6 separate regions of the Homo sapiens genome follow, and regions 2, 3, 4, 5 and 6 are each linked to region 1. Evidence: fine-mapped expression QTL. A gene starts in region 1. Each other region holds a variant in brackets. All regions are shown on one strand. Distances are between the middles of the regions.

Region 1 (5,280 bases):
TGCTCACTTTTGAGGGGCCTTTTGGGATATGCATTTTCTATTCCAAGTTGATCTGATATGTCATGCCTGCCACACACATTCCCATGGGAACAACTTCTTAATGTCTTTTGTTTCTGCCTTGGAAGCCATCCTGGTGCTCTGGGAAAATCCCTGCACTAGCATTTTCTTTTTCTTTTCTTTTCTTTTTTTTCTTTTTCTTTTTTTGAGATAGAATCCCTTGCTCTGTCTTTCAGGATGGAGTGCAGCCGTGTGATCTTGGCTCACTGCAACCTCTGCCTCCATCCAAGCGATTCTCATGCCTCAGCGCCCCCACACCCTCCCCAGTCCACCACAGTAGTTGGGACTACCAAGGCGCGCACGACTATGCCCTCTCACCATATTGCCCTGGCTGGTCTCCAACTCCTGAGCTCAGGCAATCCACCCACTTCGGCCTCCCAAAGTGCTGGGATTATAGACGTGAGCCACCGCACCCGGCCTGCGCTAGCTTTTTTTCTTTGTTTCTTTCTCTTTCTTTCTTTCTTTTTCTTTCTCTCTCTCTCTCTTCTTTCTTTTTTTCTTTCCCTCCCTCCCTCCCTTCCTTTCTCTCTTCTCTCCCTTCCTTCCTTCCTTCCTTCCTTCCTTCCTTTCCTTCCTTCCTTCCTCTTTCTTTCTTTCTTTCTTTCTTTCTTTCCCTTCCTTCCTTCCTTCCTTCCTTCCTTCCTTCCTTCCTTCCTTTCTCTCTCTCTCTCTTTCTTTCTTTCTTTCTTCTTTCCTTTTTTTTCCCCGAGACAGAGTTTTGCTCTTGTTGCCCAGGCTGCAGTGCAGTGGCATGATCTCAGCACACTGCAACCTCCGCTTCCCAGGTTCAACTGATTCTCCTGCCTCTGCCTCCCTAGTAGCTGGGATTACAGGGGTCTGCCACCACGCCCGGCTAATTTTTTTTGTATTTTTAGTGGAGACGGGGGTTTCACTACGTTGGCTGGGCTGGTCTCGAACTCTTGACTTCAGGTGATCCACCCACCTCGGCCTCCCAAAGTCCTGGAATTATGGGCATGAGCCACTGCTCCCAGCCGGCACTAGCATTTTCTAAGCCAATGACTGAAGAATAGTTTTTTAACTTCGGTGAGACTGTATCCATAGAGCTGGCGTCTGGATCAGATGAGAAGAAGAAAAGCGCAGCTATGTGCTTTCAATATATACGTTATTTAATGTGAATAGGTACTCTTCCTAGGTACCTTAAGATTTTAGAATAGGCAGTAGGCAGTTAATGCAGTCCAGAGTGGGGTAGGTGGAGCTTGCGGAGAAGGAGCAACTCAGACTTGCACATTCCCCTGTGATGAGTCATCGTGGCCTGTGTGCATTTCAAAAGCTATGTACTGAGACACCAATTCTTAGACAAGTTAGCAGGAAAAACATGTATTACCATAATTATCATAATAAGGGGGCTAAAGGAAAGCAAAGTGGCAGGAGGACTGTATCCGGCCAGACTAGCCTTTGGAGCATCCCAATAAAGGAATCTCCCAAATGGCCCCAAGATGCTCCCTACACTGCCAGGGGTAGGTATTTGAATCTGTCTGTCCTGGAGCAATCCGCTCCTTGCACCTTTGTCCTCTCCTGTCCATCCACAGCTGCCCTGGCCTGGTTCCTGGGGGCAACCGTGCTTTTAAGCAAGGGGGCAGCAGTGCTGCTCTGGGAATGCGAGTACAGCTGGAAAGGTTGAGTCACCCCTTTAGGGGCATGGTAAGAATGCCTGGTATTTCTTCAATTTTGATGAACCAAAATAGTGACAATTGCCCAAAGGCGCAGAGTCGATAATAAAGAGTGCGGACACTTCCGGAGCGCCAGCTGCCCAATAGAAATGCAGGCCACGCTGGGGAAGTGTGGAGCCGCAGCCCAGGATGGGGAGGGCCGGAAAACAGAAAAGGATTCGCGTTCTTTTTACTCTGTGGAGAGTGAGCCCGCGGACTGTAGCCTGGGCCTCGCCAAGTTCCTTTGTTCTTTGTTTTCTTTAAATTACCTTTTTTCTTTTTGTCTTAAAAAATACACATGGGTGAAAAAGAAACGAGAGCTCCCTAGAGATCACTCAGAGCTGTTTTCGTGGGTTTTTAACTTCCAGTTGCTCAAGGGTCCACGCTGGCATCTGGGGTGTGCTCGCACCTGCGAAGAATCCAGCTTCTAGGGAGCACCGCGAGCTGGTAAGTTGGTCCTGCTCCATCGCTAAACCTTCCAGCCTTAGTTTTTCATTTCTGGGGAGTCTGCTGGCTCGGGAGGAGGTGGGGCACTGGTAACACAACCCCACCACTCCCGGGAAGATCCCCGCACCCCCATCCCGGTCTGCTTTCTCTCCCTTCTGAAGCAGGAGAATAAGGGTCTGGAGGAAAATCCCAACTTTCCACAAACTTCCTTTGTAGCCCCTCCTTTTCTACATGGCAGATGAAAAACTGAAAATACCTCTGATTGGTCCCCTCCCGCAACCAATCAGACTGGTCTCCAGGGCCAAGTCTTCATGTGCATAGGAATGTAACTTTGTAACTTCGCTTTCTGCGTCCAATCAGATGTTTTCATAGGGCATAACTTTGTAACTTCACTTCAGCCTCCCATTGATCGCTTTCTGCAACCATTCAGACTGATCTCGGGCTCCTATTTCATTTACATTGTGTGCACACCAAGTAACCAGTGGGAAAACTTTAGAGGGTACTTAAACCCCAGAAAATTCTGAAACCGGGCTCTTGAGCCGCTATCCTCGGGCCTGCTCCCACCCTGTGGAGTGCACTTTCGTTTTCAATAAATCTCTGCTTTTGTTGCTTCATTCTTTCCTTGCTTTGTTTGTGTGTTTGTCCAGTTCTTTGTTCAACACGCCAAGAACCTGGACACTCTTCACTGGTAACATATTTTGGCAAGCCAACCAGGAGGTAAGCCCAAAGTCTGGGATTTATTTTTCTCCTTTCCCTTTTCCTTTCTGCTCCATACAGGTAAATCTCTCTCTTTCTCTTTTCCTTTCCAACGTGGGATCCTTGGTGGGTAGCGCCTAGACACGGAGGCGACTGCAGGTTTCTGGCCGGGGGCTACTCTCCAGTGCTGCCTTGAAGGCCAAGGAGTGAATGGGGATAGTTGCCCTGCCCAGAAGCGGGAAGGGCTCTTTTCTGTCTTTTCTGGTTGTGGTCCCTGATCCCTATGTGTGACGCAGCTTCTCCAGGGCGAACTCACACGTGTTTCAGGTGACTTAAACCTTCTTTCCTTATGTTAAATTCTTCCCTTCCCCTACTCTACTGGCTAAGGTTAAAAGAAACCCACCTAGCCTCCATTTCATATCATTAAAGTTCATGACTATCACTCTAGTGGAATGGGAACCATGGGAAAGCATGGCCTTATCAAATTATAAGGATGCTAGAAGTCAAGGCCTTCATCCAGAGACAAAAGGAAAGCTCACAGTAGGCCATCCCCTCTGGAGGGAAAACATGTAAAGTGGCACTGGTGACCACCTAAGGTCAGAGACGTCTGACGCTCTAAGATTGGACCCTAAAGGGGGATGCTCTGGAGGATCCTTTGGACCTCAGCCTCTCCAAGGGGGTTCCTTTGGTAGAGGTTCTTAGGCCTAGTACTAAGCCCTCCTTAGAATTTTCTCTTCCGGTTGCAGTAGTGTTTGGCCTCAATATTGTTTGGAATCTGGAGTTTGCTGTTGAATGGTAAAGTGGGATGGAGTTGCATGTATGCAGGCTCTTGTGCTGCTGTTCTAAGCAGGGTTGTGTCGGGTTAAAGTGTGATGTTCTCCTTTGGTGCTGTTTGGCCTCAGCGTTCTTTGAAGTGCGAGGAAGTTTGACCTTTAAAAATCAAACTGCCATGGAAACCGCTGACTTATAAATTGCTAAAGTTGTTTATAACCAATGTTTGGTTTCTCAAATCCATATTCCTGGGAAGACAATCAAAGCTTCAGGTACATTTGGCTACCCGATGGGCCATTTAAACATTTACAAAGGGATTTTATTCAATGTCACTTTCAATGCATGTTTTCTTGTTGTATAAAAGCTTTTCCCATGATTATGCTACAGTGTATTTTCACCAGGTAAAGAAAGCTTTTTATGGTTCACTGAGAACAATCAACCCCTTCACAACCTAGAACCCATAGGATAGATGTTCTCAGAACATCTACTGTAAAGGCCATAGTTACACAACAGACTTTAAATTCTTTTGTGAAAGTTATGATAGAATTGGCTGAACAGAGAAGTATCTGTGCAGCTGCTGGCACTTAGAGTCTATGGAGAAATACATTAAATGAAGATTAAGAGATTCAGTTGTAGGGGATTAATGAGGAGATTGTTTACTTAAGTTGGTAGATTCTTTATTTAGTTCATTATTTGATCTATTTAATTTTAACTGGTTTGGTTTATGGGAACCCTGGGCAAGGAGCATCCTCCAAACTCTTGGTATTATCCTCCCAATAGTCATCATAATAATAGGCTCCCTGGTGCACTGTATTCTCTCAAAGGTTTTCGATGTTTGCATGCAGCCATCTCTAGAATGTCAAATGGTCTCTCTTCAACTGGAATGATGAGAAGTGAAACAAATATGCGACCATGAGGACACTGTAACCTATGGATGGTGTGCTGAGACTGGAAACCCAAAATGATGGTAACTGAGAGCGGCGCTAAGGCCTTACGTTTTGGTTACATTCTCACCTAAGTGAGAACCTGAACAAAAAGGGGGAATTTTAAAAAACAAAATTGTGAAAGGCCAGTGTTTTGGACTGAGCTCATGGCCCCAACAGACCAAACCAAACCAAAATGGAGTTGCTCATTCTAAGACTTTAAGGAAACACATAGATCCTAGAACAGACCAAGTTTTTGTTTTTCTCCTGCAAACAGAATGTTTCAGTGAGCAGGACACCCTCCACCGGTAACACTTTCCTGTCTCTGTAGCAACTTCTAATAAACTGCAGGCTGTTGAGGACTTCAGAATGGTGGACTTGGAAGCTATAGGTCGGGTGGAACTTTTGCTCCTGCATGGGCTGGGGAGCAGCCCAGAAAATTTAAAGCATTACCAGAAAATTTAAAGAGCTGTGGGGCCAGTGAGCCAGGGATCTGCAGTGTTCAAGCAGAGCTAGAGAGGCAGGGAGGGCAGAGTGCTCTATGGTCAGGCCAGGCTTGGTGGGTGTCCAGACCTCCCAGGGTTATCCATCCTCCTGGAGTCCTGAACATGCAGGGAGTTGGGGAATAGGTTCTTTAGGTGAAATGCGACCAGGCACTGATGAACTGCATTGCTAGATCCTAAAAGAAAAACCAAGCACCCTCATGCCCTGCTGGT
Region 2 (5,280 bases), 55 kb after region 1:
AATTAGTAGCACTTCTATATACCAACAGTGACCAAGCAGAGAATCAAATCAAGAATTCAACCCCTTTTTACAATAGTTGCAAAAACAAACAAATAAATAAATAAATAATAAATAAACAAACAAAATACTTAGGAATATACCTAACCAAGGAGTCAAAAGACCTCCATAAAGAAAACTATAAAATACTGCTGAAAGAAATCATAGACAACACAAACAAAAGGAAACACATCCCATGCTCATGGATGGGTAGAATCAATATTGTAAAAATGACCATACTGACAAAAGCAATCTACAAATTCAATGCAATTTCCATCAAAATACCACCATCATTATTCACAGAATTAGAACAAAACAATTCTAAAATTCATATGGAACCAAAAAAAAGAACCTGCATAGCCAAAGTAAGACTAAGTAAAAAGAACAAATCTGGAGGCATCACACTACCTGATTTCAAACTATACTGTAAGGCTATAGTCACCAAAACAGCATGGTACTAGTATAAAAGTAGTCACATAGACCAATGGAACAGAATAGAGAACCCAGAAATAAATCCAAATACTTACAGCCAAGTGATCTTTGACAAAGCCAACAAAAACATAAAGTGGGGAAAGGACACCCTTTTCAACAAATGGTGCTGGGATAATTTGCTAGTCCAATGCAGGAGAATGAAACTGGATCCTCAGCTCTCACCTTATACAAAAATCAATTCAAGATGGATTAAGAACTTAAACCTAAGACCTGAAAGTATAAAAATTCTAGAAGTTAACATTGGAACAACCCTTCTAGACATTGGCTTAGCCAAAGATTTCATGACCAAGGACTCAAAAGCAAATGTAACAAAAACAAAGATAAATAGCTGGGACCTAATTAAACTAAAGAGCTTTTGCACAGCAGAAGGAACAGTCAGCAGAGTAAACAGACAACCCACAGAGTGGGAAAAAATCTTCACAGTCTATAAATCTGACAAAAGACTAATATTCAGAATCTACAATGAACATAAACAAATCAGTAAGAAAAAAAACAGTCCCATCAAAAAGTGGGCTAAGGACATGAATAGACAATTCACAAGGAAAGATATACAAATGGTGAATGAACATATGAAAAAATACTCAACATCAATAATTATCAGGGAATGCAAATCAAAACCACAATGCGATACCACCTTACTCCTGCAAGAATGGCCATAACAAAAAAGTCAAAAAACAGTAGATGTTGGCATGGATGCAGTGAACAGGGAACACTTCTCCACTGCTGGTGAGAATGTAAACTAGTATAGCCACTATGGAAAACAGTGTGGAGATTCCCTAAAGAACTAAAACTAGAACTACCATTGGATCCAGTAATCTCACTGCTGGGTATCTATCCAGAGAAGAAGTCATTATTTGAAAAAGATACTTGCACACGCATGTTTGTAGCAGCACAATTCGCAATTGGAAAATCATGATACCAACCCAAATGCCCATCAATCAATGAGTGGATAAAGGAACTGTGAGATATATGTATATATACACCACGGTAGTATTCCATCATATATATATATATATATATATATATATATATATATATATATATATATATACACACACATACATACATATATACTACACAGCCATAAAAGGAATGAATTAACAGCATTTGCAGTGACCTGGATGAGATTGGAGACTATTATTCTAAGTGAAGTAACTCAGGAGTGGAAAACCAAACATTGTATATTCTCACTGATACGTGGGAGCTAAGCTATGAGGACTCAAAGGCATAAGAATGATGCAGTGGACTTTGGGGACTCTGGGGAAAGCGTGGGAAGGGGACAAGGGATTAAAAGACTACAAATATGTTGCAGTGTATACTGCCTGGATGATACGTGCACCAAAATCTCACAAATCACCGCTAACGAACTTACTCATGTAACCAAATACCACCTGTACCCCAATAACTTATGGGGAAAAAGTCCACTGCATGTCTATAAAGCAAAAACAGGTAGGAAAAATAATATTTTTGTAAAAACAGGAAGAAAATAGGAGTCATAAGGAAAAGTCCTCTGTTGGTTTATTATCTATATGTTTTTGTTCCCATTTCTTCTGTGGTAGCTCTAGGGCTTACAATATGCAC[C/A]TTCAACTTACCACAGTTTAATCATAGCATATGACTTTGTGAATTATGTAAGAGCTTTATAACAATACACACCCATTTCCTCTATTCCTAAAAACAAAATATTTCTATTATAAGCACCACAATACATAGTTTTATTCCTTTAAAAACTTAATTATTTTAAGAATAATTTTCAGCACAGTGGAGGAAGTCGTGCTACCCCGCAGAGTTGGCGTGTGTTCTAGATTCATCCTGGTACCACCATGTCGAAGGTTTCCTTTAAGATCATGCTGACATCGGACACGCAGCTGCCATACAAAGTACTCAGTGTACTTTGTACTTTCCTGAAAGTACACCTTTCACAGCAGTCTTAAAGTTTGCAGCCGAAGAATTTAAAGCTCCTGCTGCAACAAGTGCAGTTATTACCAATGATGGAATAGGAATAAATCTTGCACAGACTGCTGGAAATGTTTTTCTAAAACAAGGTTCAGAACTGCGGATTATTCCTAGAGATCATGTTGGAAGTTGTTAATATCTGCTACTTGGAACATACGATTGCCTTTCAGAATAAATATTGGTATTTTTTGTTGTTGTAAAATTGAAATCAGGCATTTAACATACTATGAAAACACTAAGAGTCAATGAATAATGAAAGGTGACTCATCTGTCCCTTTTTGTTGTTCATACTCTTCATATGAAGAGGGAATGCATAAGAATTAAGGCTACTACTGTCACAGAAGATCATAGTCTTTGCTACCTCACAACACAAATAGGTAGTTCATTGGGGGGAAATGAATTAGCCAACTGTGTTAACTGCAAGGTTCTGATAATTTTTTTTTTGAGAACAATTTGGAACATTAAAATTTACTGAATCTTATATATTCATCTGACTTAAAAATATACAAAGAATTACGGATCCTGGATGGCAATTTGCTTGATAGCATCTGATTTGCAGACTCATAGTTTGATTTTTAATTAAATATATAGGTTATGATGAAGTCAATAGACATATCAGTGAACAATTAACTATATTAAATTTTTATCATTTACTTTTTCTAAGATTAAAACCTCATGTATTATATAAATTTCAGTTTAGTATCCACAAAAAAATTAAAATAATAATGTAACTCTTATGTGTATAAATTGATGTCTCATACCAGGTTTTAATGTTGGACTTGCAGAATCCAATATTTGTAATGGTGGGAATTCACAATACAGTAGAAGCATCCTTTGCTGAGTTATAGATTCCTTTATCAATCTCTTTTGATACAACTTTTAAAACAAGTATCTTCAAGAAACCATTGGTGTTTTGAGGATAATATTTCTAAATAGCATTCAGGAAGAGAATATTATTGCACAGAAGATCTGATGATCAAAAAAAAAAAAAAGCTCAAGGAGATGCAGATTGAAAGTGCTGACAAGTTATATTTATTGAAGATCCAACTTTTAAGGAAGTGCTAAGATTAGTCACTCATGTGAATAAGAAGCCAGGAAAGGAAAGATGGGGAAACCTAGATGACCAGGCTTCTGTTAAGGAGGAAAGCAACGGAGGAAAACAGTGAAGGGGAACAGAAAAGTGTAGCAAAGTGTTACAGAAAAGCCAACTGGATAGACAACACTGCAGAAGGTAGAGGTTGGGGAGAACTGAAAGGGAAAACAAAATACTTGACATAGTCTTAAGTAGTAGAAGGCAATTAGAGAAAACTAAGTATCTACTGGCCTTGTCAACATACAGACTTCAAAATACCCCTTATGAGAATCCAAAGAATGATGTGTGTAAGGGAAGATTTTATGTGCCCTTCCAGAAGAAATCAGTATCTATGTAAATCTTGAAAGATGAAATCAAAGCTCATAATGATTCAGAATCAGTGCTTGCCCTGCTGTATTCTGTCTGAACGGTGAACTCTGGAAGCAGGGATTGTGTCTGTCTGGCTCTTTTTAGAGCTGGAAATGTAGTGGCTTTCATTAAATACTTGCTGTGAAGTCTCTCTAAGACCAATTATTATCTTAGCATGTTTCAGTATCTTCTCTGTTATAGGCTCTAGGTTCATTGGGGAAAAAGATATAAGAAAATTCAACAGACTCAGCATTTGAAGTGTGCCATTGGTAGTTGTTTATGAAGTTACCAGATATTCATATATGTGACAAATGAACAGCAGGATTATGAATTATCAAAGGAAAAGACATTTGCTGAGGTGAAAAACTCTGGTGTTTGAGGAAGTTTTTATTTTTATAAAATAAAAATATTTTAAAATTTTAAAATCTTATAAATAAAATCTTTAAAATATTATAAAATAAAAATATTTAAAATATTTTATTTTAAAATCTGATGTTCAAACGCCCGTTTCTTACAATAACTATTGAGCCTCAGTTAACCAGAAATTTGTGAACATCCATTTCCTGACTTTTTGCTTTAAATTTTTTCTCCACTGTTTCTAGCACAAAAGTTTGCCTGCTGTGTTGCAGAAATAAATTTATGTTGTCCTCTGCCATAAAGTGATATATTTAATATTTTTATTCTTTGTTTTTGAAAATTATATTGTAAGTTCCTAAAAACATTTTATTAAACAATTAGACATTTTGTTATTAAATAAATGTGATCTGTAATTTCTTTGTGCAGAATGATTTGAAGTATTGTATTTAGTTTACATGCATTGTGGGTTCATAATTAATATCCAATGAAAATACATTTTGTTATATTGTAAAAAAAGAATAATTTTAACAGTAAAAAAGAGATTTTTTATATTTATCTGCATATTTACTATCTTCTGTGCTCTTCATTCTTTTTTGTAGATCTGAGTTTCATTCAGGTATCATTTTCCTTCCAGCTAAAGAACTTCCTTTAATATTTTTTCATAAGAAAGATCGGCTGGTGACAAATTCCCTCAGATTTTCAGATTTCCTTTTTTTTTTTTTTTGTCTGAAGTCATTACTTTGCCTCCATTTAGGTAGGCCTTTTTTGTGGTTGTTATAGGATTCTAGGTTGACAATCTTTTAGCACGTTATAGATGCATGGTTCTGGATTTGGTACAGGTTTGCACAGACTCTCTGTAAACATGTTAAAGAAAAATGGAGAAGCTGCAACATGAGAATACGAAGATTTACTGAAATGAAAAGGTGGTCATTGAAAGAAAGTGGGTTATGAAACAGCATGAACATTATGACCTCATTTTAACAAACGTGCGTAACATACAC
Region 3 (5,280 bases), 820 kb after region 1:
CTCAATTTCCATACCTGTGAAATGAAGAGCTTAGAACCTATTTCACAGAGTTGTGATTAAATAAGCAAATTGCTCGCTTGGTGTAATTTCTGGTACAAAGTTGGTGCTCAGTGTTCATTCGTTCATTCATTCATTCATTCATTCATTCAACATTTATTGGTTATTTAGTTCTGAGAGGAGGGAAGTGCTCACCTGTTTTTCTCCTGCACTTGGTGCATTGTCTGGCTCACGCAGGTCTTCTGCCAAGGTTGGTTAAGTTAAATAAGACAAGTACAGAGATGACAGGCACATGGAGCAGTGTCCCAAAGGCCTCCAAAGAGGCACCGAGGCTGGAAGGAGTGCCAGCTGTTGAGGGGCCCTAGAATTTGGCCCAGAAAGCTCTGTCACTGATCTGCTGCGTAACCTTGGGCAGTTTCTTTCCTTTCTCTGGGCCTCAGCTTCTTTCTTTGGGAGAAGAGGATAGTCCCTGCTCTGCATGCCACATGAGTGACCTAGAAGTAGGTAGCGGTTATGTCTGCAGGGAGTTCTGGACTAGGTAGCAGTCAGCTGGCCGAAGGAGAGGTGATGACTTGGGCCCGGTGGGCCCTGAACACTGCCTTCCCTAAGCACCAGGGCAGGGCCTCTATGTATAATACTATTGAACAGTTGGTGTCTTGGACAAAGATGCACAGCTCAAGGAGCAAACAGAGGTTAAAACCCAGCCCCGGCTCTGCTCGCCAAGCCCGGTGCCTAGTGAGGGGCTGCTTTTGTATCTTTCTAAATTGCACAAAGATACCACCTAAGCTGGTCCCCACAGGCATGTCCCCACCCCAGGCTGGAGCTGCAGTAAACCACATTGGGCCAGAGGGGAGAAGAGGGGTCCAGTCCAGAGACAGAGGGATGAGTGCCTCCCTGAGGTCTGGGGTCTGAGGGAGATGTCCACCCCATCCCCAGCCCTGTAGCTCCTCCCTCCTCCAAAGCAGCTCAAACCTTCCCCACCACGAAGCTGCAGACCCCATCTCTAGGACCAGCCTGGGTTCTCCTCTGGCACAGGCTAGTGTCTCCCTCATCAACCTGGAGGCTCCACTTTCCTCTCTCCACCGTATTCCCAACACTGAGTGCCTCTGGGTGACTGCAGCCTGGGCTGCGCTAGGAGCAGCAGGAGCCCCAGAGCAAGGACATGTAGCCGGGGAATACATAATCACTGACTCCATGCTGTGGCCACTCCCTCAGTGGGTGGGTGGGAGGAAGAGCCACTGAAGCCACCAGCAGCTAGCAGCCCCCAGATGGCTCTTGCCTACTCCCTGGCAGGTTGTAAATCCTGGAGAAGCAGCTTCCCAGTACTGTTATCCACCCCACCCCCATGCTTGGCTGGAACCCAATGTTGGAATAAAAGTCAGCTGTGGGGAGGGGCCAGCAGGAGGGGCGCCCCTCCTCCACTTTGCCCTGAATCCCCTCCCAGGAGACCTCCTGCCTGCTGACTCCCAGCAGCTCTGGTTTCCTGCCATCTGCCTGGGAACTCCCCATCTCTTAGCTGAAGGGATATCAGGGTCCCTCCCGTACACCTTACAGATGAGAAAAAAGGGTCACAAAGGTTTGGGTCAGGCTGGCTCTGTCATTTCTTAGCTGTGTGATCATGGGCAAGTGGCTTCACATCCCCCACCTCAGTTTCCTAAACTGTACAACGGAGTGAGAATAGCCCCTTTTTCACTGACTTGCTTTGCTAACAAAATGCCTATGTTATAAGATTACCTGTGAAATGTTTCAGCGGTGCCTGGCACACAGGCAGCCCTCTTTAAATGTTAGCTGTTCTCTGAGTGTTATTATCATCGTCATTAAATGGATCCCCCACACGGCCTCCTGAGTCAGGAGGCAGAGATCCTCCAAGACCCAGCGACCGACTCCCCTCTCTCCTATATGTGAACCCAATGCGAATCCTCTTGTGCTCTGACTGGGGCTCAACTTGCCTGCCGCTAAGGGTGGAGACCCTGCTGTTTTTTTTTAATCCCTGGCACCTAGCACAGAGTCTTACACATGGTCTGTGTGGAACAGAGGATTGTCGAGTGAATGAGTGAGTGAAGGAATGACTGGGATGGCCCTGGGAGGTGGTTGTGCTAACACACACACACACACACACACACACACACACACA[T/CACACACACAT]CTGTGCCAGTCTTCCCCTTGCAGGCACCCTTGCTGTACCCCATCCTGGGACATCTATCCTAAACTGGCCACTCCTTTTGCTCCCTCTGCCTAAAACCAGACCAAGCCTGCTGCTCAGTGTGACTTCCTCATCTTTGAGAGTAAGGAAGGAAGGAAATCACAGAGACCTAGGCAGAGGAATCGGGGAGGGGGGTACTAAACTACAGATTGGTGAATGAAAGAATGAATCAAGCTCAGCTAACTTGGGGGCTAGGTCTGCTTCCTGAAAGCCTGAAGGAGGACGAGGGTACTAGAAGGACAGGTGGCCATGAGACCCCAAGAAGCTGCCACCAGGACAGCCCCTGAACTGGCCTCCTAGTCCTGCTCCTGGGGAAACCCAGGGAGGGAAGACTTGCTGAAAGCATACAGCAAGGTGGTATGAGAGACTTACTGAAAACCAGGGCTCTTGTTTCCCAGTTCCCTGCTAGTCTCAGGGGTACCTTCCTCTGGCCCCTGGAGCCTTGCCACCTATGGGGAAGCAATCCCAAGAGGAGGCCAAGGAAAGGTTCCCTGGTCCTGGGAGATCAGCTGGGCCATGGTCCCTCCCTTCCCCTCTAGACTCTGCTCCCATGGGATCCTGTAAGCTGCACATGGCACTGAGGGACAGAGCCTCGGGGCACATGATAGAGAAGGAGGGTGAGAAGGAGTAGTTCAGGATAGGGTGATGTGGACCTCTAGGGGCAGGGACTACAATATGTACAACTCAGGCTGGTGTCCCTGGGCTGGAGGGGTCCCAAGGCAAGAGGGGCTTGGAGTTTGGAGGCCCAGTTGTTGCATGGAGAGTCCAGGCAGAGGAGAGATATCAGATGTAGGGGACAGAAGCTCTGGCCCTTCCAAGTGCACAGTGACCCCAGGCCCTCTGTGGTACCTGCTCTGTGAGCCTGCCCTGCAAGTTGTAAGCCTGTGTCTGTTAGTCTGTCTGCATCTGTGATTTCAGGATCAGGACCAGAGACATCAACAGGCTTATGAAGACAAGAAAGGCTTTGTACTTCCAATCAAGCATCGCTTACCCCTGGGAACAGCTCTTTTATTTCTGAAACACTGGAGGGACCCCACCCTCACCCTTACCCCAGCAGCGACCTGCAGGGCAAACCCTTGGCCCTAGAGCTCAGTCTGCCTAGCTGTAATGGGCTTTGATGTGAGGTCCCTTTTGTGATGGAAAGGGCTGCGTGGGGGTCTCAGGGATGTAGGAATAGGGGTCAGGAGGTTTATTTGTCAGCAGGTCTGGAGTTGGCCAGCGGCTGTGCAGCTAGAGACAAAAAGACACTGTTGAAGAGCCTCTCTTTCCTAGTGGAAAAGATACTCCCTACCACCCGGCTGCCTGGTGCCCAATCCAGGCCACATGAAACAGAGGGCTACCTGCTCCAGCCAGCATGATGAGAGCCCTCACCTTCACCCCCCAGCACCCTAGCCTCCTGTGGGGCCCAATTTCTTGGATCTCAGGATGACCACGAGGGAAGGGGGGAACAAGGCAAGGAGGCCACACTGGTGTGCTTGTGGGAAGGGCCTTTTGGAGACAATGGCCTACCTTTGCCAGCCTAGTCCTCAGCCAAAAACAGTGGGTTGTGTTTGGGGGCGGGGAGTGTCAGGGAAGGCAGCAGCAAGGACAACCTCCTGAGGATCAGGCTCCAGGGAGAGGGTCTGGACTACCTCCTACAGTCACGCCAGAGAGGAGAACTGCCACCAACCCCCCAGGGCCTGGAGTGTAGGCTTGACCTGCTCTGCTGGGCTACCTACCCATGGAGGGCTGGGGGAGGGAGAGAGACCCCCGCAATAAGGCAAGGGTGCAGAAGCTAGGGAGAAGGGCTGAGAACAGGGGAGAGGGAGAGAAAGCTAGGGTTCAAAGGAAAGAGATAGGGGGAGGCGGAGAAAGAGGGGACAGAGAGGAAGGAAATAGGAGATAAGCCTGGAGAGAGAAAATAGAGAAAACCCTATCCTGGAGTCAGGGGAGGCAGTGGGGGGCTTAGGGACTGCTGGACGGACTAGTAGTGAGGTAGAGCCAGGGCCAACCGAGAAGGCCCAGGAGGGAACCTGAACAAACCTGCACAGCCCTGGCCTGGGAACCCAGCCAGCTAAGCAGGAGCAGCGGGGGAGGGGAGTGCGGGGGAGGGGGCTGCTCTCAGAGTTACACTAAATGACTAATGTGCATTATCCTAATTATAGCAGAGCAAGCTGAGCCTTCCCACTGGCACAGCCGCCTGCATCTCCTAATAAACAATTAGCCGCAAACAACGGAAAAAGAATGTAAGAACGCGCGCGCGCGCGCGTGTGTGTGTGTGTGGGTGTGTGTGTGTGTGTGTGTGTAGAGAGAGAGAGAGAGAGAGAGTGTGAGTGCCACCATAGGCCTGCAGTGGGTGGAGAAGGTTTTGGAGCTGGGCTTTGGGAGGGGAGGCTCTGGGGGAAGCTGGGGAACCACCTCACCCCTCCAGCCCATTCAGCCCTGGGCAAGGTAAGAGCTGCAACAAACAGCAGCCTTAGAGGTGCAGGGTGGGGGACATGGGGTCCCCCTAACATTTAGAGGCTGCCTCTGGAGTGCTAGGTACTGGCTGAGTGTCACCCCAACCTCACAATAACTCTGGGAAAACTGCATCTTTCCCACCCCACTGCCCCCCCCAGTGACGGAACCAAAGCTGAGAGAGGCTGAAAGGCTTCCCCAAAACACACAGCTGAGGTTAGGCCCCACCGGCCCTCCTGATTTCCCTGGTCCTGGGCTCACTTCATGGGAGCAGTGAGCCTGGAAGTTGGGGACCAGGTGTAGAGATCCCCTGAGCTATGATCCCAGACCTGAGCTGGAGGTGGGCTTGGTCATGAAGGTGGGACTTCCTCACTGCTCTGCCAGGCACTTGTGTGTGAATGATCTCTGATGTTTTGACGACATTCCTGAGACTTGGACCATATTCTGATGCCTGTTTTAACTGAGGCCTAGAAAAGGGAAGATATTTGTTCAAGATCCCAGAGGTTTAGTGGCAGAGAGTGGGCTTTGGAACTCACACTCCTACCTCTGAGTGGGGGCTCTGCCGGGGCTCCACAGTTGGGTCCCATAAGCCAAGGCCCCTGCTGGAAAAGCCAGGGCATTTCCAGTTGGGGAGGAGAGTGAAGCAACAGCAGAG
Region 4 (5,280 bases), 92 kb after region 1:
CAGCAAAATCTGGCTAGTTCTGATTTGTACAGAAATTGGTGCTTAGAGTGGGATGCTGCATAACAAAATAATTTAAATTGTGGCTTTGGTTCCAGGGCTGAGTGATGGGCAATGAAGAAAATATTATTGGAGGCTGGGAAAATGTCAACCCCTGTTTTGTAGCAGTGAAAGACTGGACAAAACAGTCACCTTTAATAACTTAGAATGAAGATAATGTATTAAATGAGCCTGTGGATTTGAGTGAAGAAGTAAGGAAACAGATGCTAGTAATATAGTTTGATCGCTACTAGGTAGGGTAATACAAAAGGTGGGAGGAAAAATGTGCTTGGAAAAGCACTAAACTCTTTGCAAGCAGGAAGGGAAGAAAATGGTCTACACATTTTTGGACTTTTAGAATAAGAAGTTGCAAATATTTCTCTTCTTCAACTAATAAAAAATCTGAGAATGTCTTTGGGTAACAAAGACAGAAATTCAAACTCAGTCTTTGGCAAAGAGGCAGTTAATAAGTAGCTATTAAACCTATGGTGGAAACCTCTGAATCAACTAAGATGTCAGCCAATAAATCCTTTCAGACAAAATTGCTCAGAGAAAAGAGCTTGAGTGCATTGCTTTCTGATGAAAGCCTGCTAATTCAAGGTAATATAATTAAATCTAAAGAGAGAAGCACATCTCAAAAATACTGAATTGTATTAGCACACAGAGTTAACTGGGACCGTATAGATTTAGAAAAACAACAAGAAGTTTTTGAGAAAGTTAAATTGCCAAGGAGCCATACCTAGATTTTTAAAATCCAGAAAGCAAAAACTGTGATGCTTTCAGACTAAACACAACCCTTGGACTCCAACATTCTTTGGGCAAGCAGTAGGTTGAGAAAGCTGGTTAGTTCTAAAGGAAGGTACAGTCCCCAGTTCCTGCTTTAAATGTGGTTGAAGAAAATAATAGAAAAGGGAAACTTTCCACTTTAAAAGTGGAAGAAGGGCAACAGAGTGAGACTCCATCTCAAAAAAAAAAAAAAAAAAAAGTGGAAAAAGATAATGACACCCTCTTGAGAGTGAAATCAGGAACCATGGGTTCTATTCAAGAGATACTGAATTCTTAGCCAGAGCAATTAGGCAAGAAAAAGAAATAAAAGGCACCCAAATTGGAAAGGACAAAATAAAATTATCTGTGTTTGCAGATGTCATGATATTATATACGGAAAATATTGTGGGATCTGACCAGCAGCCTGCAATCCAACGGGGCTCTTTCTTTGTTCCCAGGTGGATCGGCAGGTCAAGAAATAAAAGACACATGCGAGATAGTGAAAGCTGGGTCCAGGGGGGTCACCGCCTTCTGGTCTTGTGATGCCACGAATGCACTGGATATAGCAGCATTTATTATTAAGTTTAGTGAGGGTGGGGGTAGGTTAGTGAGGGATTTAGGGTCTTTGATTATGAGGTGAGATGGTCACATGGGGATGAAGTAATTCTTTAACATAACATCTGTATGCAGAAGTGCAGAATACAGAGATAAGAATTTACAATACAGTGTGTGTGTCAGTGATTTTTAACAGAGCCTTAAAACAGAAACACAGTCTATCCATAACCTATGTTTAGCAAGATATTAATCAGCAGTAACAGTTGCAGCAAAAGCTGGTTGCAAACAATTGATGGAAACAGGATGTGAAACTAGACAACCGGTGAGACCACAAATTCTCAGAAGGGAGTATGCCTTAACCCTAAAGAGACCTAGAAGAGCCATGGCAAGATAAGGGCATTTAAAACCCTATTTTATACATATGAATGGCCGCCCCTCATGCGTCCATTTATAGGCTCTCCACAAGGGTCGCATTCCATTCCCAGAGCTGTGAACATCTGCTTTTCTGGGATAAGAATATTGGTGATGTGAAACCTCCCTGACTGCACATCCGTTTATAGGCTCTCTGCAGGAGGAAGCACATCATGTGCTGTTGGCTCATTCAGGCAGCCCAACCTTGCATTGTCTTTACACAATCCTGCATGCAATTTTGTATTTATAATAATCAGGAGCATTTCATCTTTTATTCTGTAGCAATAGTTTCAGGGGGTCTCCCTACAAGAAAACCCTAAAAACTCCACAGGAACTGTTAGAACTAATTAACACATTTGGTAAAGTTACAAGGTACAAAACTAGAAATGCAAAAATCAGCAGTGTTTCTGTCCGATAACAACTATGCAAAATAGAAATCAGCCAGGCGTGGTGGCTCACACCTATAATCCCAGCACTTTGGGAGGCTGTGGAGGGTGGATCACTTGAGGTCAGGAGTTTGAGACCAGCCTAGCCAACATGGTAAAATGCTGTCTGTACTAAAAATACAAAAATTTGCTGGGCATGGTGGTGGACACCTGTAATCCCACCTACTCGGGAGGTTGAGGTGGGAGAATCACTTGAACCCAAGAGGTGGAAGTTGCAGTGAGTCAAGATCAAGCCACTGCACTCCAGCTTGGGTAACAAAATGAGACTCTGTCTCAAAAAAACAAAACAAAAAAAAAAAACACAAAAAAAAAAAGGAAAGAAAAGAAATCAAGAAAACAATCCCATTTACAATAGCTACAAAAAAAATACTTAGCAATAAGTTGAACAAAGGGAGTGAAAGATCTGCACATTAAAAATTATAAAACATTGATGAAAGAAATTGAAGACGACACTAATAAATGAAATGATATCCCATGTTCATGGATTGGAAGAATTAATATTGTTGAAATGTTTATTCTACCCAAAGTGAACTACAGGTTCACTACAATTTCTATCAAAATTCCAAGGACATTTTCCACAGAAATAGAAAAACAGTCTTAAAATTTCTATGGAACCACAAAAGATCCCAAATAGCCTAAGCAATCTTGAGTAAGAAGAACAAAGCAGGAGACTTTACACTACCTGATTTCAAAATGT[A/G]GCACAAAGCTATAGTAATCAAAACAGCATCGTACTGGCATAAAGAGAGTCATATAGACCAATGAAACAGAATAGAGATCCCAGAGATAAATATATACGTTCATAGGCCAAGCAACCTTGAGAAAGTTACCTTGAACATACATGGTGAAAGGATACTCTTTCCAATAAATAGTGTTGGGAAAACTGGATATCCAATGCAGAAGAATGAAATTGGGTCCTTATCTCATACCACATAAAAATAAACCCGAAATTGATTAAGGACTTACATGTAAAAGCTGAAACTATAAAACCACTGGCAGAAAACCCAAAGGGTGATTTATTGATGTTGGTCTTGGCAATGAATGTTTGGAATATGACCCCAAAAGTACAGGCAACAAAAGCAAAAAAAGACAAATGAATGACATAAAACAAAAAGCTTTTGCACAGCAAAGGAAATTATCAAAGGAATGGAGACAACCTACAGAAGGAGAGAAAATATTTGCAAACCATACATCTAATAAGGGGTTAGTATCTAAAATATAAAAAGAACTCAAACAATTCAATAGCAAGGAAACAAATAATTTAATTTAAAAATGAGCAAAGTATCTGAGTAGACATTTCTCAAAAGAAGACATTTCAATGGCCAATAGGTATATGAAAAAGTGTTCAATATTACTAATAATGAAGGAAATATTAATTAAAAGTACAAAGAGGTATCATCTCATCTCATACTCATGCAGCTATTACTAAAAAGACAAAAGATAAGTGTTGGCAAGGATGTGGAGAAAAGGGAGTATCTGCACACTGTTGGTGGGAACTTAAATTAGTGCAGCCATTAGAGAAAACAATATGGCAGTTCCTCAAAAAATTAAAAATATGCCAGGCTAAGTGATTCACACCTGTAATCCCAGCACTTTCGGAAGCTAAGGCAGGGAGACCACTTGAAGCCAGGAATCTGAGACCAGCCTGGGCAACACAACAAGACCTTATCTCTACAAAACATTTTTAAAAATTACCTGGGCATGGTGGCATGAGCCTGTGTTCCCAGCTGCTCTGTAGGCTGAGGCGGGAGGATCACTTGGGCTCACGAGGTTGAGGCTGCAGTGATCTAGGATGCCACCACTGCACTCTAGCCTGGGCAACAGAGTGAAATCTAATTTCTAAAAAAAATTAAAAATAAACATAGCTATCATATGATGCAGCAATCCTATTTCTGGGTATATGTCTGAAAGATATGAAATCAGTAGATCAATGAAGTATCTACAATCTCATGTTTGTTGTAGTATTATTAATAATTGCCAAGATATGGAATTAACCAAAACTGTCCATTGATGCATGTGTGATTAAAGAAAGTAAGACACACACACACACACACACACACACACACACGGGAATACTATTCAGACTTAGAAAAGAAGAAAATTCTGTCATCTGCAACAAGGTGGATGAACCTGGAGGACATTATGCTAAGTGAAATAAGCCAGCCACAGAAGGACAACTACTACATGATTCCACTTATATGTGGAATCTAAAAAAGTCGAATTCATAGAAGCAAAGAAAGAATGCCAGGGGCTGGATGGTGGGCAGAGGTCGGAACATGGGGAAATGTTGGTCAAATGGTAAAAAGTTTCAGTTAGACAAAATGAATAAGTTCTGGAGATCTATTGTACAGCATGGCAACTACAAGGAATAACAATGTATTGTATATTTAAAAATTCCCAAGAGAGTAGAACTCAATTGTTCTTATCACAAAACATACCTATGTGAGGTGACAGATACATTAATTAGCTGAGTTTAATCATTCCACAATGTATAAATGTATCAAAACATCATGTTGTACACTGTGAATATATACAATTTTATTTGTCAATCATACCTCAGTAAGGCTAGAGTGAAATGGAGGAAAACACCATGGGCAACCACTGACTAGAATCAGAACCACAGGGAATAGTCCCCACCCCTGGGTAACAGTGCCTCAGAGTGTCTGCCCAACAGCATTTCAAAATTTCTAGGGACCAGGGACTATTCTGTGCCTCCCATTCTTCCCCTTCCCAAATGAGAGGTGATTTTTTTTTTTTTGAGACAGGGTCTCACTCTGTCGCCCAGGCTGGATTGCCATTGTGCAATAGCCATCCCACCTCAGCTTCCTGAGTAGCTGCGATCACAGGCATACACAACCATGCCTGATACTTTTTGTAATTTTTTTTTAGAGATGAGGTTTCACCATGTTGCCCAGGCTGGTCTCAACCTCCCATACTCAAGGGATCCATCTGCCTTGGCCTCCCAAAGTGCTGAGATTATAGGCATAAGCCATCACTCCTGGCCTATCAAATGAGAGGATTATTAAATGTTATTCTGTTACTATTTATTTCACTGTTGTATAATGTGTGT
Region 5 (5,280 bases), 48 kb after region 1:
GCAAGTTCTTAGAGACCTACAAAGAGACTTAGACTCCCACACAATAATAGTGGGAGACTTCAACATTCCACTGACAGTATTAGAAGATCATCAAGGCAGAAAATAAACAAAAATATTCAGGACCTGAACTCAATATTGGACCAAATGGATCTGATAGACCTCCACAGAACTCTCCACCCCAAAACAACAGAATATACACTTTTCTCATTGCTACGTGGCATGTACTCTATAACTGACCACCACACAATCAGACATAAAACAATCTATGACCAACTCACAGCCAATATCATACTGAATGGGCAAAAGCTGGAAGCATTCTCCTAGAAAACTTGCACAAGACAAGAAAGCCCTCTCTCACCACCCTTCTTCAAGATGGTATTGGAAGTCCTGGCCAGAGCAATCAGGCAAAGAAAGAAAGGGCATCCCAATAGCAAGACAGGAAGTCAAACTATCCCTGTTTGCAGATGACATAATTCTATGCCTAGAAAACCCCATAGTCTTGGCCTAAAAGCTCTCTTAGCTGATAAACAACTTCAGAAAAGTTTCAGGATACAAAACCAATGCACAAAAATCACTAGCATTTCAATACACCAACAACAGCCAAGATGAGAGGCACATCAGGAATGAAATCTCATTCACAATTGCCACCAAAAAATAAAATACCTAGGAATACACCTAACCAGGGAGGTGAAAGAGCTCTACAATGAGAATTACAAAACACTGCTTGAAGAAATCAGAGATGACACAAACAAATGTAAAAACATTCCATGCTCAAGAATTGAAAGAATCAGTATGATTAAAATGGCCATACTGCCCAAAGCAATTTACAGATTCAATGCTATTCCTATCCAACTACCAATGACATTTTTCACAGAACTAGAAAAAAAAACTTTAAAATTCATATCAAACTAAAAAAGAGCCCAAATGGCCAAAGCAGTCCTAAACAAAAAGAACAAAGCTGGAGGCATCACGTTACCCAACTTCAAACACTATTGTAGGGCTACAGTAACCAAAACAGCATGGACCTGGTACAAAAACAGACACACAGACCAATGGAACAGAGTAGATTCCAGAAATAATGCCATACACCTACAACCATCAGATATTTCACAAAGCTGATAAAAATAAGCAATGGGGAAAGGACTCCCTATTCAATAAATGGTCCTCGGATAACTGGCTAGCCATATATAGAAGATTGAAACTGGACCCTTTCCTTACACTATATACAAAAATCAACTCAAGAAGGATTAAAGACTTAAATGTAAAACCAAAACTATATAAACCCTGGAATACAACCTAGGCAACACCATTCTGGACATGGGAACTGGCAAAGATTTCCTGATGAAGATGCCAAAGGCAATCACAACAAAAGCAAAAATTGACAAAGGGGATCCAATTAAACCAAAGAGTTTCTGCACAGCGAGAGAAACTATCAACAGAGTGAACAGACAGCATAGAGAATGGAAGAAAATATTTGCAATCTATCCATCTAACAAAGGTCTAATATCTAGCATCTATAAGGAACTTAAACAAATTTACAAGAAAAAAACAACCCCATTAAAAAGTGGGCAGAGGACATGAACAGAAACTTTTGAAAAGAAGACACATTTGGCCATCAAGCAGATGAAAAAAATTCAATATTATTTGTCACTGGAGAAATGCAAATCAAAACCACAATGAGGGCCAGGCGCAGTGGCTCACACTGTAATTCCAGCTCTTTGGGAGGCTGAGGTGGGTGGATCACTTGAGGTCAGGAGTTCGAGACCAGCCTGGCCAACATAGTGAAACCCCATCTCTACCAAAAATACAAAAAATTAGCTGGGCATGGTGGTGCACGCCTGTAGTCCCAGCTACTCTGGAGGCTGAGACAGGAGAATTGCTTGAACTCAGGAGGCAGAGGTTGCAGTGAGCCAAGATCATGCCATTACATTCCAGCCTGGGTGACAGAGTGAGATCTATCTCAAAAAAACAAAAGCAAAAACAACATGATACCATCTCACACCAGTCAGAATGGCTATTATTAAAAAATCAAAAAATAACAGATGCTGGCGAGGTTATGGAGAAATGGGAACACTTATACACTTTTGGTGAGAGTGTATATTAGTTCAGCCATTGTGGAAAGCAGTGCGGCAATTCCTCAAAGAGCTAAAAACAGAACTACCATTTGACACAGCAATCCCATTACTGAGTATATACCCAAAGGAATATAAATCTTTCTACCATAAAGACACTGATGCGTATGTTCCTTGAAGCGCTATTCACAATAGCAAAGACATGGAATCAACCTAAATGCTCATCAATGGTAGACTGGACAAAGAAAATGTGATATATGTACACCATGGAATACAATGCTGCCATAAAAAAGAATGAGATCATGTCCTTTGCAGGATCATGAATGAAACTGAAGACCATTATCCTTAGCAAACTAATGCAGGAGCAAAAAACCAAATATGGCATGTTTTCACCTATAAGTGGGAACTAAATGATAAGAACAAATGGACACAAAGCGGGGAAGAACAGACACTGGGGCCTACTTGGGGCCTACTATAGCTGATGCTTTCTGGAAAGTGCAGCCTCCTGGAAGGAGGCCAACCACCACAAAAATAGAGCATTAAACCACCAAAGCTCAGGACCCTCATGGAGTCTGTTGCACCCTCTGCCACCTCCACCAGAACAGGCACTGGTGAGAGACCCATAGATGGTTCACATCACAGGATTCTGTGCAGACAAACCACAGTACCAGCTCAGAGCCGGGTAGACTTGCTGGGTGACTGGACCCAGAAGAGAGATAACAATCACTACAGCTCAGCTCTTAGGAAGCCACATCCTTAGGAAAATGGGGAGAGTACTATATCAAGGGATCACCCTGTGGGACAAAAGAATCTGAACAACAGCCTTCAGCCCTAGACCTTCCCTCTGACAGAGGCTACCAAAATGAGAAAGAACCAGAAAACCAACCCCAGTAATATGATGAAACAAGGCTCTTCAATACTCCCCAAAAATCACACTAGTTCACCAGCAATGGATCCAAACCAAGAAGAAATCCGATTTACCCAAAAAAAAAAAAAAA[AAAT/T]TCAGGAGGTTAGTTATTGAGCTAATAAGGGAGGGACCAGAGAAAATCCCAGTGCAAGGAAATCCAAAAAATGCTAAAAGAAGTGAAGGGAGAAATATTCAAGGAAATAGATAGCTTAAAGAAAAAAAAATCAAAAATTCAGGAAACTTTGGACACACTTTTAGAATTGCAGAATGCTCTAAAAAGTCTCAGCAATAGAATTGACCAAGTAGATGAAAGAAATTCAGAGCTCACAGACAAGGTCTTTGTATTAACCCAATCCAACAAAGACAAAGAAAAAAGAATAAGAAAATACAAAAAAAGCCTCCAAGAAGTCTGGGATTATGTTAAATGACCAAACCTAAGAATAATCGGTGTTCCTGAGGAAGAAGAGAATTCTAAAAGCTTGGGAAACGTATTTCGGGGAATAATTGAAGAAAATTTCCCCAGCCTTGCTAGAGAACTAGACATCCAAACACAAGAAACACAAAGAAAACATGGGAAATTTATTGTGAAAAGATCTTCACCTAGGCACATTGTCATCAGGTTATCTAAAGTTAAGATGAGGGGAAGAATTTTAAGAGCTGCAAGACAGAAGCACCAGGTAACCTATAAAGGAAAACCTATCAGATTAACAGCAGATTTCTCAGCAGAAACCCTACAAGCTAGAAGGGGTTGAGGCCCTATCTTCAGCCTCCTGAAACAAACAATTATCAGACAAGAATTTTGTACCCAGCAAAACTAAACATCATATATGGAGGAAAGATACAGTCATTTTCAGACAAACAAATGCTGAGAGAATTCGCCATTACCAAGCCACCACTACCAGAATTGCTAAAAGGAGCTCTACATCTTGAAACAAATCCTGGCAACACATCAAAACAGAACCTCTTTAAGGCATAAATCACAGAGGACCTATAAAACAAAAATACAAGTTAAAAAGAAAAACAAAAAACAAGTCCACAGGCAACAAAGCACAATGATTGCAAAGGTACCTCACATTTCAATACTAACAGTGAATGTAAATGGCCTAAATGCTCCACTTAAAAGATGCAGAACCACAGAATGGATAAGAATTCACCAATCAACTACCTGCTGCCTTCAGGAGACTCACCTAACACATAAGGACTCACATACACTTAAAGTAAAGGGGTAGAAAAAGACATTTCATGCAAATGGACACCAAAAGCGAGCAGGGGTAGCTATTCTTGTATCAAAACAAACTTTAAAGCAACAGCAGTTAAAAGGGACAAAGAGAGACATTATATAATGGTAAAAGGCCTTGTCCAACAGGAAAATATCACAATCCTAAATATATATGCACCTAACACTGGAGCTCCCAAATTTATAAAACAATTACTAATAGACCTAAGAAATGAGATAGACAGCAACGCAATAATAGTGGGGGACTTCAATACTCCACTGACAGCACTAGACAGGTCATCAAGACAGAAAGTCCACAAAGAAACAATGGATTTAAACTATACCCCGGAACAAATAGACTTAACAGATATATACAGAACATTTCATCTGACAACCACAGAATATACATTCTATTCAACAGTGCATGGAACTTTCTCCAAAAGAGAACATATGTTAGGCCATAAAACGAGCCTCAATAAATTTAAGAAAATTGAAATCATACCAAACACTCTCTCAGACCACAGTGGAATGAAGCTGGAAATCAACTCCAAAAGGAACCTTCAAAACCATGCAAATACATGGACATTAAATAACCTGCTCCTGAATGAGCATTGAGTCAAAAACAAAATCAAGATGGAAATTTAAAAATTCTTTGAATTGAAGGACAATAATGACACAACTTATCAAAACCTCTGGGACACAGCAAAGGTGATGCTAAGAGGAAAGTCTGAAAGAGCACAGACAATTTAAGGTCACACCTCAAGGAACTGGAGAAACTAGAACAAACCAAACCCAAACCCAGCAGGAGAAAGGAAATAACCAAGATCAGAGGAGAACTAAATGAAATTGAAACAAAAGAATACAAACGATAAATAAAACAAAAAGCTGGTTCTTCGAAAAGATAAATAAAATTGATAGGCCATTAGCAAGATTAACCAAGAAAGGAAGAGAAAATCCAAATAATCTCATTAAGAAATGAAACAGGAAATATTACAACTGACACTACTGAAATACAAAAGATCATTCAAGGCTACTATTGTAGAAGGACAAGCCGCAGACAAAACCCCTCAGACACCGAGTTAAAG
Region 6 (5,280 bases), 35 kb before region 1:
GGCACACCTACAGCTGTGGAACATTGCAATGAGGAAAGATTGGGAAAATGACAAGAGCCTGTTATCTGGAACTTACAGGCGCATTTATTGTCTCCAGTATCACCAGGCCAGCCCCATTTGAAGCAGAGCTAAAGTGGAAAAATGATTTGGACTAAACGTTAACACATGGCAGACCAATTTCTATGGTTCTGTTGGCCAAGAAATGTGACCATGGGAGGATGAACGCAGGAACAATAGCCTCAAGATGGGCCAGATCTACATGGAACATAGTTTTGCAGTAGGAAAATATAAACTTTGGTGAAACCTTCAGATGCCTGATAAAATATTATATGAAAATGTACTCTTGAAGTTTTGATTTATGGAGGTGACTGAGTGTCAACACAGATGGACTAGCGCCATTGAAAAAAGACTTTATTACTTATAGTTCCAAGAGAAGGGGACTTGCTCTGTCATGCAGGGTCATGTGGTAAAGCATCCAGTTGGTTAAGGAAAGAGGAGCAGAAGTGAGGGGAAAATCTAATTCGGAACCTTTATTATTAGGGTTTCTGTGGGAAAGGTCCAGCTGGGCAGGGGGAACAGCTTAGGACTCAATAGTTTGAATAATTCTGATGGGCTTTGGGGCCTAGGGACGGTCCCCAGTTGTCTGTTACATGGCCCTGGGTTTATGTAGGGTAGGGAAAATATTGGCTCGATGTGTGAGTAGCTTAGAGTATGAGCTCTGGGTCACAGCGGGGATGTAAAGAATGTTGGCCATTAGTTTGGCCCTGTGATTAATGGATGCCAAATAGACAAGTACAGAACCTAGGAAAACACAGTAAGACCCATTGCCCCTGGGCCTATTTGGCATCATCGTAAGAAACCTGGGGTGGTAATAGTGGACTTATTTAAAGGATGGGGTACAGTTGCCCTAAATAGCCTAGAAAATATTTTATTGTAAGAGTAAGATAGAAGAACAATGTGGAAGTATAAAGAGCCCTTGTAGGCTGGTCCATAACTAAGTTCTTCATTTGCATGTCATTAGTCAAGAAAGTAGATCTGAAATTTTTGGAGGTTTTTACTATTATCTTGGTGGAGTTTTAAAGTGGGTTAAAAGTTTGAAATACATATATATATATATTATATATATATTTATATATATAATATATATATATTTTATATATATATATTTTATATAAAACAGGTCCTGCAGTCAGGTTGTTGGGGGATAGGAACTAATACATTAATAATGCATGTGTAGACTAGCGTGTGTGTATAACCAAGGAGGAGTGGTCATGGTCAGAGACACAGGGCAGGAAGTCACGGGGGAAAGCTTGAGGGGGTAGTAGGGGTAGGCACTGGGGAGTTAGTGGTCCTCTTCCCAGTGGGTTGAGGGATTGACTCAGGAGGCAACAGCCTTCAGAGAAAGGCAATACTATCCATTAATTTTTGTTATCTTTTTAGACACAGGGTCTTGCCCTTGTCACCGAGGCTGGAGTGCAGTGGTGTGGTCATAGCTCATTACAGCCTTGACCTCCCGACATCAAGAGATTCTCCTGCCTCAGACTCTTGAGTAGCTGGGACTACAGGTGTACACCACCATGCCCAGCTAACTTTTATATGTTTTGTAGAGATGGGGTCTCCCCATGTTGCCCAGGCTGGTTTGAACTCCTGGGATTAAGCAGTCCTGCCTCAGCCTCCCAAAGTGCTGGAATTATAGGCATGAGTCACTGTGCTTGGCCCTCCATTAATTCTTAGAATGACGTAGGTAGTGGTAACTACTATTAAATTTTCCTTCAGGCATAGGAGTGCGGGGTGTATGTTTTGGCAGAGAGCAAGGAGTATGCCAGGATGATAGGCTAAGCAGACAGCACACTCAGAAACACAATAGAATCCCTGATATCAAAGGAAAAAAGGCCAAATGTTCGGTGTGCAGTTTGTGCCTGAGAAGAGGCAGTCCATGGGTGTCACTGGGGTGAAGGTTTTTGTGTTTAGGGTGACGCCATGTCTGGTGCAGGGGTAAATTCATCTCTGACGGTAAGCTGGATCGATGTCATCTGAGGCAGCATAATCTCCAGCAGTGAGTGCCTATCCAGGAAAATGTCATCTAGGATATGGGTCTTGAGTATTTCTTTTAAGTAAATACAGACTCAGGTTGATGTGGGTCTTAGCATTTGCCATGATTGATTAAAACAATGGCTTGTATGGAGGGTTGGTGCCTCCAGATGATAAAACAACAAAAGCACCCATACCAGCAGTAAGATCAGCAGGCTGAGCATGGCAGCTCATGCCTGTAATCCCAGCACTTTGAGAGGCCAAAGCAGGTGCATTGCTTGAGCTCAGGCATTCAAGACCAGCCTGGGCAACATGGTAAAACCCTGTCTCTACAAAAAACATAAAAAATTAGCTGGGCGTGGTAGTGTGTGCCTGTGGTCGCAGCTTCTCAGGAGGCTGAGGTGAGAGGATTGTCTGAACCCAGGAAGTAGAGTGGGGAGTGAATCGTGATCACGCCACTGCACTCCAGCCTGGGTAACAGAGTGAGACCTTGTCTCAGACCAAAACAAAAAGCAAAAACAAACAAACAAAACAAAAAAGATAAACAGAAAACAGAATGGTGTGCAGCTGCATTTGACAGAGTTTTGGTTTTTGCTTGCTTGCTTGCTTGCTTCATGGTTGAAGTTTAGGCTCAAACGGGTCCCATATCAGATAAGCAGCTGCCTAGCCCATTGGACAATCACTATTAATTGGACCCCAGAGAATATACACACCTGCTGTGGCCTCCTGATGGGGGGGGTTTGATATTGAAAATCTATAAAAATAGGTTAAGGCCTGGGGCAAGATAAAGACCCATTGAGAGGTCCATTTGTTGGACTGGAACTTTAAAAGAAGTTGTTTGGGGAGACTCTTATGTCTCTCTGTTAAACTGGCTATTTGGGACCTATTAGGGTCA[T/C]GAAAGTTTTATTGAATGCCTGTTTGTTTCGGGAGCCCATTCAGTGTGTATTTTGCAATGTGAAATGTGTGCCTTGGTTATTACCTTGGTAATTGTAAGGCCTCATATGGTGGCCTTAATATACATAGACACGTGATTTTGGGTATCTAAGAGGAAAGAGGTTCTTAGTGTTCCTTAATCTGAAAGGGACAATTCATTAGGCAATGGCTCAATTGTTCAAAAGGAATATGGAGATGGGGCCATTTGTTGGCCAGGGCATCCAGCATTCGGTAATATTCCACCTAGCTCCATCATGTATGGTGGTTGGCAGTGCCATTCATATAGTCCGTGAACTTCTATTGCTGTTCACTCAGTCAATCCAAAGGAGCTTTCCAGGTAACCAAGGGGTCTGGAGGAGAGGTGACCTCCTCCAGCACTATGGCATCTGGCAAGGGACCAAGGACTGGGGACGTCACTCCCTTCTGCGTGTGAATATGCTAGAGAGCCCAGGACTTGGTAGCCTCCTTGAGACAGGTTAGAGACAAACCTGGGCCCTCTGAGAGGCTGAGCTTGCAGGGTGCTGTTTCCATGACTGAAAGCATAACAGGTAGCCAGGTATGGAGGGTCACAGACTCAGAATCTGTGAAAGCCTCTATGTCCAGGAGAGCCCAGTATGGAGCTAGTCATTTGTGGTTTTAATGGCATATAGCATGAGGCTGAGAGCCCTCAGGCAATTCGTAGCCATCACAGGTGGTCTAGACTTTAGGAGGCATGAGTAGAGCTTGTTAAAGTCTCTTCAGTAAAGGAATCAATGCAGGCACCAATGGGTCTGTCTGTTGGTATTAATTTGGATAGATTTTAGAGCCTTTTTGTTTGAGGCTGCCACATTTAAAGTGGGTTCATTTGTGAGTTACAGCTCAATGAGATTAAGTAAAATTTGTAAGTGAAGAATATTTTGCCATGAAAACCCAAAAAGGATGAAAAGATGTTGGACTCTTATGTCCATATGAGTAGATTAAGTGACATCTCCTTGGAGGAGGTTATTAATGTAATATCATATCTGTGCTCCCAGAGGAAGGTGCATGCACTTAAGATCTTGTCTGTCCCTGTCTCTTTAAAAAGAAGGCCATCTGAAAAGGCTATATACTGTATGATTCCAACTATATGACATTCTGTAAAAGGCAAGATTATGGAGACAGTAAAATGATCGGTGGTTTCCAAGGATTAAGGGAGTGGGAGGAATGAATAGTTGAACCACAGAGGATTCTTAAGGCCATGAAAATCCTGTGTTTGATACTATATAGTAGATATATGTCATTATACATTTGTCTGAACCCATAAAATGTACAAGAAGAATGAACGCTAATGTAAAAGTCGCAATGGATTTTGAGTGATTATGATGTATTAATTTAGATTAATCAATTGTAACAAATGTACCACACTAATGGGAGATGTTGCTAATGGGGGAGGCTATGCATGAGTGCGGGCAGTGGGTATATGGAAAATCTTTGTACTTTCCGCTCAATTTTGCTGTGAATCTGCTCTAGAAAAATTAAGTATTAAAAAAGATCTTGTCTGTAAGATGTGTGCATGATGGCAAAATTGTGAAGGTACTGAGGTGTAGCCTGCAAGAGGTATATTGTGTCTCTTCAGCAATGGAGGCAAACTACAGTGGAGTCTGTTGAAATAGGCACGGAATTGAACATATTGAACATATTAGCCAAGTCTGTAAGAACAGAGTATTTAGCAGTTATTGATTGGATAGAGTTAATAATGTTAATCATACTAGATACTGGCTATGAGGCCCTAGTCGACAAGACCACAGCAATAATGTTGTAGTCCTCCACCGTGAGGTGCCTGCTGCTTATTATTTTCCAGGTTTAAGAACAGGCAACACTGGGCTGTTAAACGGACAAGCAGCAGGGAATACTTATCTCCTTTATCCCTTTTATGTTATATAAATGAGGTTTTATGTAACAACTTTCAATCCTTCAAGGGCCTATTTTAACTTACATTGAACCATATTAACTATTTTAATGGGATTTATATAATCCTATTTTATCAAGCCAATTTTTGAGTGCCAAAAATTTAATTTTAATTTATTATTTATTGTGACATGGAGTCTATGTTCAATACGAGATACTTTAAGGCACTGAGTACAACAACTATGAGCAATTCAATCAAGATATAAAATAAGGCATAGCTATTTTTAAAAAGCTATTTAGCTACCTTTTAAAATTATATGGGGTACAATGTTTAAATTTGTTGGAACCTCAGGCATAAGTATAATTTGAGTATTTATTAAGTCCACGAGGTTTCTCAATTGGTGCATTTTGGCAAATGTTAAAGTTAATTTAGAGCTTTCAGTTCTGGCC

The links. PIP is the estimated chance that this variant, and not a neighbour inherited with it, causes the effect.
Region 2: its variant is fine-mapped to the expression of SLFN12 in whole blood (INTERVAL, PIP above 0.99).
Region 3: its variant is fine-mapped to the expression of SLFN12 in follicular helper T cells (Schmiedel 2018, PIP 0.95).
Region 4: its variant is fine-mapped to the expression of SLFN12 in whole blood (INTERVAL, PIP 0.99).
Region 5: its variant is fine-mapped to the expression of SLFN12 in whole blood (INTERVAL, PIP above 0.99).
Region 6: its variant is fine-mapped to the expression of SLFN12 in aorta (GTEx, PIP 0.95).

What each region holds. Positions count from the first base shown.
Region 1 is chr17:35,429,799-35,435,078 of GRCh38, reverse strand. SLFN12 (schlafen family member 12) reads left to right here and starts at 2,579. Exons shown (of 4, transcript NM_018042.5): 1 at 2,579-2,891. RefSeq lists enhancers at 492-1,217, 1,168-1,407, 2,228-2,447, 1,376-2,575, 1,944-2,669.
Region 2 is chr17:35,374,747-35,380,026 of GRCh38, reverse strand. LOC105371933 (a long non-coding RNA gene) reads right to left here. Exons shown (of 2, transcript NR_171638.1): 2 at 5,172-5,280. It also overlaps the pseudogene UFM1P2. Among named protein-coding and RNA genes, the nearest start is that of SLFN11, 3.8 kb to the right of the region's middle. The variant C/A (reference allele first, on the strand shown) is at 2,110.
Region 3 is chr17:34,612,369-34,617,648 of GRCh38, reverse strand. The region is part of intron 1 of TMEM132E (transmembrane protein 132E); the gene reads right to left. Among named protein-coding and RNA genes, the nearest start is that of TMEM132E, 35 kb to the right of the region's middle. RefSeq lists enhancers at 1,095-1,695, 4,356-4,934. The variant T/CACACACACAT (reference allele first, on the strand shown) is at 2,132.
Region 4 is chr17:35,338,174-35,343,453 of GRCh38, reverse strand. No RefSeq gene overlaps it. Among named protein-coding and RNA genes, the nearest start is that of SLFN11, 33 kb to the left of the region's middle. The variant A/G (reference allele first, on the strand shown) is at 2,911.
Region 5 is chr17:35,382,023-35,387,302 of GRCh38, reverse strand. No RefSeq gene overlaps it. Among named protein-coding and RNA genes, the nearest start is that of SLFN11, 11 kb to the right of the region's middle. The variant AAAT/T (reference allele first, on the strand shown) is at 3,071.
Region 6 is chr17:35,465,176-35,470,455 of GRCh38, reverse strand. It overlaps SLFN12L (schlafen family member 12 like), which reads left to right. Exons shown (of 5, transcript NM_001363830.2): 5 at 1-5,280. Among named protein-coding and RNA genes, the nearest start is that of SLFN13, 19 kb to the right of the region's middle. The variant T/C (reference allele first, on the strand shown) is at 2,927.